Linked DNA regions of Homo sapiens. The protein of the gene in region 2 interacts with the protein of the main gene of each other region in a pairwise test. Each region holds a gene or a part of one and is shown on either strand. Other genes may lie near its edges.

Region 1 (2,916 bases), on a different chromosome or scaffold from region 2:
TGTCCTTCATCTCCATGGTGATCTGCACCCTCAAGGTGTTCCAGGACAGCAAGGCCTGGGAGAACTTCCGCACCCTCACCGACCTGCTGCTGCGCTTCGAGCCCAACCTGGATGTGGAGCAGGCCGAGGTCAACTTCGGCTGGAACCACCTGGAGCCCTATGCCCATTTCCTGCTCTCTGTCTTCTTCGTCATCTTCTCCTTCCCCATCGCCAGCAAGGACTGCATCCCCTGCTCGGAGCTGGCTGTCATCACCGGCTTCTTTACCGTGACCAGCTACCTGAGCCTGAGCACCCATGCAGAGCCCTACACGCGCAGGGCCCTGGCCACCGAGGTCACCGCCGGCCTGCTATCGCTGCTGCCCTCCATGCCCTTGAATTGGCCCTACCTGAAGGTCCTTGGCCAGACCTTCATCACCGTGCCTGTCGGCCACCTGGTCGTCCTCAACGTCAGCGTCCCGTGCCTGCTCTATGTCTACCTGCTCTATCTCTTCTTCCGCATGGCACAGCTGAGGAATTTCAAGGGCACCTACTGCTACCTTGTGCCCTACCTGGTGTGCTTCATGTGGTGTGAGCTCTCCGTGGTCATCCTGCTGGAGTCCACCGGCCTGGGGCTGCTCCGCGCCTCCATCGGCTACTTCCTCTTCCTCTTTGCCCTCCCCATCCTGGTGGCCGGCCTGGCCCTGGTGGGCGTGCTGCAGTTCGCCCGGTGGTTCACGTCTCTGGAGCTCACCAAGATCGCAGTCACCGTGGCGGTCTGTAGTGTGCCCCTGCTGTTGCGCTGGTGGACCAAGGCCAGCTTCTCTGTGGTGGGGATGGTGAAGTCCCTGACGCGGAGCTCCATGGTCAAGCTCATCCTGGTGTGGCTCACGGCCATCGTGCTGTTCTGCTGGTTCTATGTGTACCGCTCAGAGGGCATGAAGGTCTACAACTCCACACTGACCTGGCAGCAGTATGGTGCGCTGTGCGGGCCACGCGCCTGGAAGGAGACCAACATGGCGCGCACCCAGATCCTCTGCAGCCACCTGGAGGGCCACAGGGTCACGTGGACCGGCCGCTTCAAGTACGTCCGCGTGACTGACATCGACAACAGCGCCGAGTCTGCCATCAACATGCTCCCGTTCTTCATCGGCGACTGGATGCGCTGCCTCTACGGCGAGGCCTACCCTGCCTGCAGCCCTGGCAACACCTCCACGGCCGAGGAGGAGCTCTGTCGCCTTAAGCTGCTGGCCAAGCACCCCTGCCACATCAAGAAGTTCGACCGCTACAAGTTTGAGATTACCGTGGGCATGCCATTCAGCAGCGGCGCTGACGGCTCGCGCAGCCGCGAGGAGGACGACGTCACCAAGGACATCGTGCTGCGGGCCAGCAGCGAGTTCAAGAGCGTGCTGCTCAGCCTGCGCCAGGGCAGCCTCATCGAGTTCAGCACCATCCTGGAGGGCCGCCTGGGCAGCAAGTGGCCTGTCTTCGAGCTCAAGGCCATCAGCTGCCTCAACTGCATGGCCCAGCTCTCACCCACCAGGCGGCACGTGAAGATCGAGCACGACTGGCGCAGCACCGTGCATGGCGCCGTGAAGTTCGCCTTCGACTTCTTTTTCTTCCCATTCCTGTCGGCGGCCTGAGGATGGTCCGCCACGAGGAGCTTCCAGTGCATGTTGCCATGAGGCCTTTCCCCAGTGTGGCCCCAGCCCGACAGGCATGCACCAGTGCCGCCTGTGCCCACGTGTGCAGACTGTGGCTGCAGAGACCTTGCGACCATGTGTAGATTGCGTGGACCCCGACAAAGGGAAGGCTGCTGTGTAGCTCTGTCCACTCTGAATACCAAGTGTGTTGGGAATTGCATGCCATCTCCACCCTGAGCCTGACCTTTCTGAGTGACATGGGTGTGCCAGGCTAGACTAGGAGGTTCCGGTGTCTGGAAAAGCACTTTACAGATGAGATTCCCTCTCCTCCCCCACCTTCAAGCACCCTGTTCCCTCTTTCTTTCTTTTGTGTTGGATTTGTTTAAAAACCAAATAAGCATCTGTGTAACCTCCACAGTAGCATTTCTTATTTGTTTGGTCACTGCTACACCTTAGCAGCTCTTCCCCTTTCCTGGGGGATGTGCACGGCAGCTTGAGCCTGTCACGTGGTCAAGGCCCGGCCCCATCAGAGGCTGGGGGAGGCGGCACATTGGCAGTGTGTCACACTGAGCTGGGCACCACAGGCTGCCTCATGACCCTCCTGTCCAGCAGGTAGTGGGTGAATGTGTGAAGGTCTTGCCTGAATCCATCAGGACTTGGGAAACAGAGAACCCTGTGGGGGCGGCTGTGGGGGAGGTCCCTGCCAGTGTTTAGAAGAGCCTGACTGTGTTCAGTGCCTTGGAGCAGAAAGCCAGGGTCCTGAGTGGCTGAAATAAAAGCCTCTGGTGGAACCTGCAGCGCTTTCCTTCCTTTCTTTACCGAAAAGAAGTCTTTCTTGTACGTGCGTGAGAATCAGCAGAGCCTGCACTCCTGTTGAATGAAATGCAAGTGCAATTTGAGTTATAAAAGAGCAAGGTTGATGTTTCACAGTTGATGGCTTCCTGCCACAGCGAGACCCTGGCTTCATCTCCAGCTGGAGGGGCCCCTGGGGCATCTGCCGTAACTGTGGGGTGGCCTGGGCATGGGCTGCCTGTGCAGAGAGACCTGTGCTGAAGGTGACCATGGAGTGTCAGCCCAGCCATCTTCAGATCTTACTGAGCGGAAAGTGCACGGTCATAATTATCTTTGAATTCCAGTTACCCATGAAGTGGAGCCTACAGGGTGATTGATGGCGTGGGGGCTGCTGTCCATGCGGGAGTGTGTTGTGAAACCACCTCCTGTGTTCCCTAACCTGCAGTGATGACCCCATGGGATTATAATCAGAACTTAGTCATTTGGGGGCACCCGAGCAGCTGCA
Region 2 (4,043 bases):
AGAGAAGGAAATACGACAGGCCTTCCCAGGCCTTCAGGTACCAAAGTAAAGCAGAAGAGAGCAGCTCATTGGCAGTATTTTTGCTGAGATTTTTCTATTCTTCTCATGAAAAGCCCATCATTAATTGGCTGCCTTGTGGAAAGACAGACAACAGGTCAGAGAATGGATTATCTGGGTTCTAGTCTAGAGACCTTTTCACTGCTCATTAGTACTGCTTTACTATTACAAGTTAGAAAAGGGAAGAGAAATCTCAAATAGGTGAATACTCAGGTTTGTGACTAGGGAGAGAGGTAAACAAGTTCTGGTGAGAAATGAAATGGACCTAAGTAGTTACTGTAATATGAGAGACTGAGTTTAATTCATCCATATCCATATCATCTTTGTCCCATTATTATTACAAATCATATGGTTTCACCATGTGATTGAGTCCCTAAAGTCATTTAAGAGAGTTGATCTTTTCAGTTTCCTCTGACTCAGCCTCTGATCCGGCAGGCTGAACAAAGCGTGCAATCCAGGGATCTGAGAGTGTGGGAACTGAAGGACTCCACAGAACTGGAGCCGCCCTGCAGCTGGAGGTGCACAAGCCTCAAGCGGCTCTGGGTGGAAAATTCATTTTTTAAGTCAAAATGTTTTATCGTATGGAAGCAAAGGCTTGACTAAGAAGATACCATTTGGTAATATGGAACTAATCTGAAATACCTTCACTCTTGTATGAATGTATGTGCAAAATGAATCCGCAAAAAGACAGCAGGGATGATTAAATGAGGCCAAGTAAAGATCTGCCACATCCATGTCTGGTTGTTTGGATGCCATGGAAATGCAACAGAAGTAAAAGCTTATGAGTGATGCTCTTCTCAAACAAATAACGAGATTCCCTTTTGTGCATTTTAGTCACTTAAATTTACAACAAACTAGATAGGATATCCGTAACAGTGACATTAATGCCACTGTGAGACCAATTGAAAAGCAAAATCTACACTAATGGTATCCTAGAGGCAATGTTCAATTCGGCTGTACCACATAAACAGCAAAATGAAAAATTTAATCATTATTATTCATGTTATTCATGATCAATATTATCATTATCAGTGCTGCAAACAGTGTTCGACACATAATGAATAGCACTCAACAAATCTCCTATAAATGGATGAATTTCTACTATTACTATATTGAACACAAATGATAGTAAGAATATAAATGTATTAAAATCTTTTGGGCTCCTTAATTTTTAAATTCACCTGCCAAAGTTCTACATTTTTTATCTCGATCTGATGCAATTACTTCCTTAAAACCAATTTTTAAAAACTTAAATTAGTGGTCAATCCATTGCTGTTAACAAACCAGACAGAACTCTATGTCAAATTAAGTCTTGCTTAGGATAGAACTCTCTATCACTACAAGCCAAAACTCACCCAGGAGAGTTGCTTCCCTCAAGCTAGTGAGTCCTAATTGTCTCTGACTTCAGCAGATTTAGTCAAGAGAAGTGGTCAAATAAAAATGTGGTAAGAGCCAAATGCATCTTTAGTAAATAGTAGCTAATTGTGCCACACACACTCTGAGGCAGTCATCGTACCACCAATTGCACCTGCACTTTTCATTTCTCCCTTTCTTTTTTTGTTTCATTCACTCAACTGAAACATTGATACAGTAGCTTTTATGCATGGATCCAGCACATGCCAGGTGAGTCGGTCTCAGTTCTCATAGGGCTCTCCCTGCCTTCCTACCGCCTGGCTTGTGAAGTCTACCACTAATAGTAATTGACCCTTCTTGGTCCTACAGAAAGCACTTCAATTTGGACAGGGCTGGCTTCCTGGCTGTTCCACATCTGCAGAAACCCATCCAGCGGTGCCATTCACCATTCCAGTCACAGGCACTGGGAGGATGGAGGAGGAGGAAGAACAAAGGTACTCTGGGGCAAGGGTAAGAAAAGCCCACATGCATTCTGGCCTGAAGACGGGATGATTCTTACTCCAAGGAAGGCCTGTCGCCACCTTCATCAAACAGCCTTCCATATCCATACCCTGTCTGCTGCTAAAGCTTGGCAGCATCTCATTTCTAATCAACAGATGGGTGAGCTCTAAAAGGGGATGCTTGTGCTTCTGAGTTTTCTTAAGCCATATGTTACCCCTGCACTGATTGCAAAGTCTACCACTACAGTTATTACACATGCTCATTTGGTGAATTGGCTTGGTCTCTTCTGCTCCACCAATTCAATTAATGCTTACAGAATGGTGACTAGGTCTCAGGTGCCATGCTACATGCACTCACATTTCATCTTCTTCAAGGCCCATAGGAAATGGGTTCAGAAGCTAAGAAACCTGACTGGATCCAGGATTTGAAACTTAGGTCTTTGCCAGACTTTAATATGCATGTTCTAACTTCAGTGGGTTACCTATTAGTGGATGGTCAGCTAACTGCAATATTAACGAGGTCAAAATCACAAGCTCCAAGTTTTCATTAGCTGGTCACTTTACTCAGGTCTAAGGCCAAAGACCTTATTCTTAATAAGTCAGCTCTCAAAATGAATATATACAGATGTACCCAGGTTCATCATCATCGAGAGAGGTCAAGGATTACATAGTACTGATGGTCGGCCTAGGAAGACTGAGAAATGACTTAGTGAGACTAGGACCACCTCAAGACGTGACCTGGAGTCTTCTAATTACGTAACCTACAAACCAGGAAACCAAAGAAACAGGGCTTTACTTCTTAACTGGGCTTCAGACGTTCCTTAAGAAGGAGGGCCATGTGAAAAATAGTTGTATATAATTTGAGCCTGGATGACAGAGATTATAAGTGGGTAAATGCCAAAATGATCAAAAAGAGTAAGGAAGAGCCATTTATAACACCACCTGAAGACCATTTGTCCTTACACAATTTTAAGTGGGGTCTTTTAAAAGAACTGTTGTGTACATAGTTCATGATGGGTAGCTCCAAAAAGAAGAAAATAATACAAAAGGGACTGTTGTGTACAGTCAGTAAAGTGAAGCATTTGTAATAACCTGATAATGCAATGCAATGGAAAATAGAACGCACCTTTGTCTGAGCAGGTATCTTGTTCTGTATATTCAGCGTCGTGGTTTCCACTTTTGGAGCAGCACTAGTCAACAGTATCTTTGGAAGTGGTCGAGATGTTGTCAGCTCTGGACTCTCTACATCCTCATCAGCTCCTGGAAAAGTAAGTGAAGATGAACTGAGCATGGCAATCATGACACAGATGTCTCCATTATCAGGCACTATTGCCTGACGTTGACACTGACAGAATCATGTTCTTTCAAAATGCTGGCTCTTTAAGACTTCAGCACAAAGCTTCCTGTGGTCTTCACCATGATGAAGAAGTGATTTCAAAGGTGTCTGTGGGTAGTCTAGCAAGTTTTTCCTTAATAGTATTATCCTGAACATTCAAGTAGCCCTTCTTTCACTTGCATGTTCCTTTTCTCCCTGCTTGACAAGATTTTTTCCCATCTACACTGAAACGTGCTCCATTTCCATTTTAAGAACACAACAGTCCAGGTGCAGGGGCTCACGCCTGTAATTTCAGCACTTTGGGAGGCCGAGGAGAGCGGATCACGAGGTCAGGAGATCGAGACCAGCCTGGCCTATATGGTGAAACCTCATCTCTACTAAAAATTCAAAAATTTAGCTGGGCGTGGCGGCGCACGCCTGTAATCCCAGCTACTCGGGAGGCTGAGGCAGGAGAATCACTTGAACCTGGAGGTGGAGGTTGCAGTGAGCAGAGGTCACACCATTGCATTCCAGCCTGGGTGGCAGGGTGAGACTCTGCCAAAAATAAAAATTAAAAAAACCCACAACAAAACAAAATGCAAACAGGAAAACTCTCCTATGGCTGACTCCTTATTTCATGTGAGTTCCTTGCCCTCTCTCCCGGGTTTTTGTTTTGTTTCTTTTTTTTTTTTTTTTTTTGGAGATGGAGTCTTGCCCTGTCACCAGGCTGGAGTGCAATGGCACAATCTGGGCTCACTGCAACCTCTGCCTTCCAGGTTGAAGTGATTCTCCTGCCTCAGCCTCCCGAGTAGCTGGGA

What was found. The genes of interacting proteins can lie anywhere in the genome.
Region 1: the proteins of SDC2 (region 2) and WFS1 interact in binary tests that used the Homo sapiens proteins (3 or more experiments, as listed by UniProt).

What each region holds. Positions count from the first base shown.
Region 1 is NC_000004.12:6,300,850-6,303,765, forward strand, and holds the end of WFS1 (wolframin), read left to right. Parts: coding exon 1-1,619; 3' UTR 1,620-2,416; downstream 2,417-2,916. UniProt on the Homo sapiens protein: Participates in the regulation of cellular Ca(2+) homeostasis, at least partly, by modulating the filling state of the endoplasmic reticulum Ca(2+) store.
Region 2 is NC_000008.11:96,601,522-96,605,564, reverse strand, and holds part of SDC2 (syndecan-2 precursor), read right to left. Parts: intron 3,171-4,043; coding exon 3,037-3,170; intron 1-3,036. UniProt on the Homo sapiens protein: Cell surface proteoglycan which regulates dendritic arbor morphogenesis.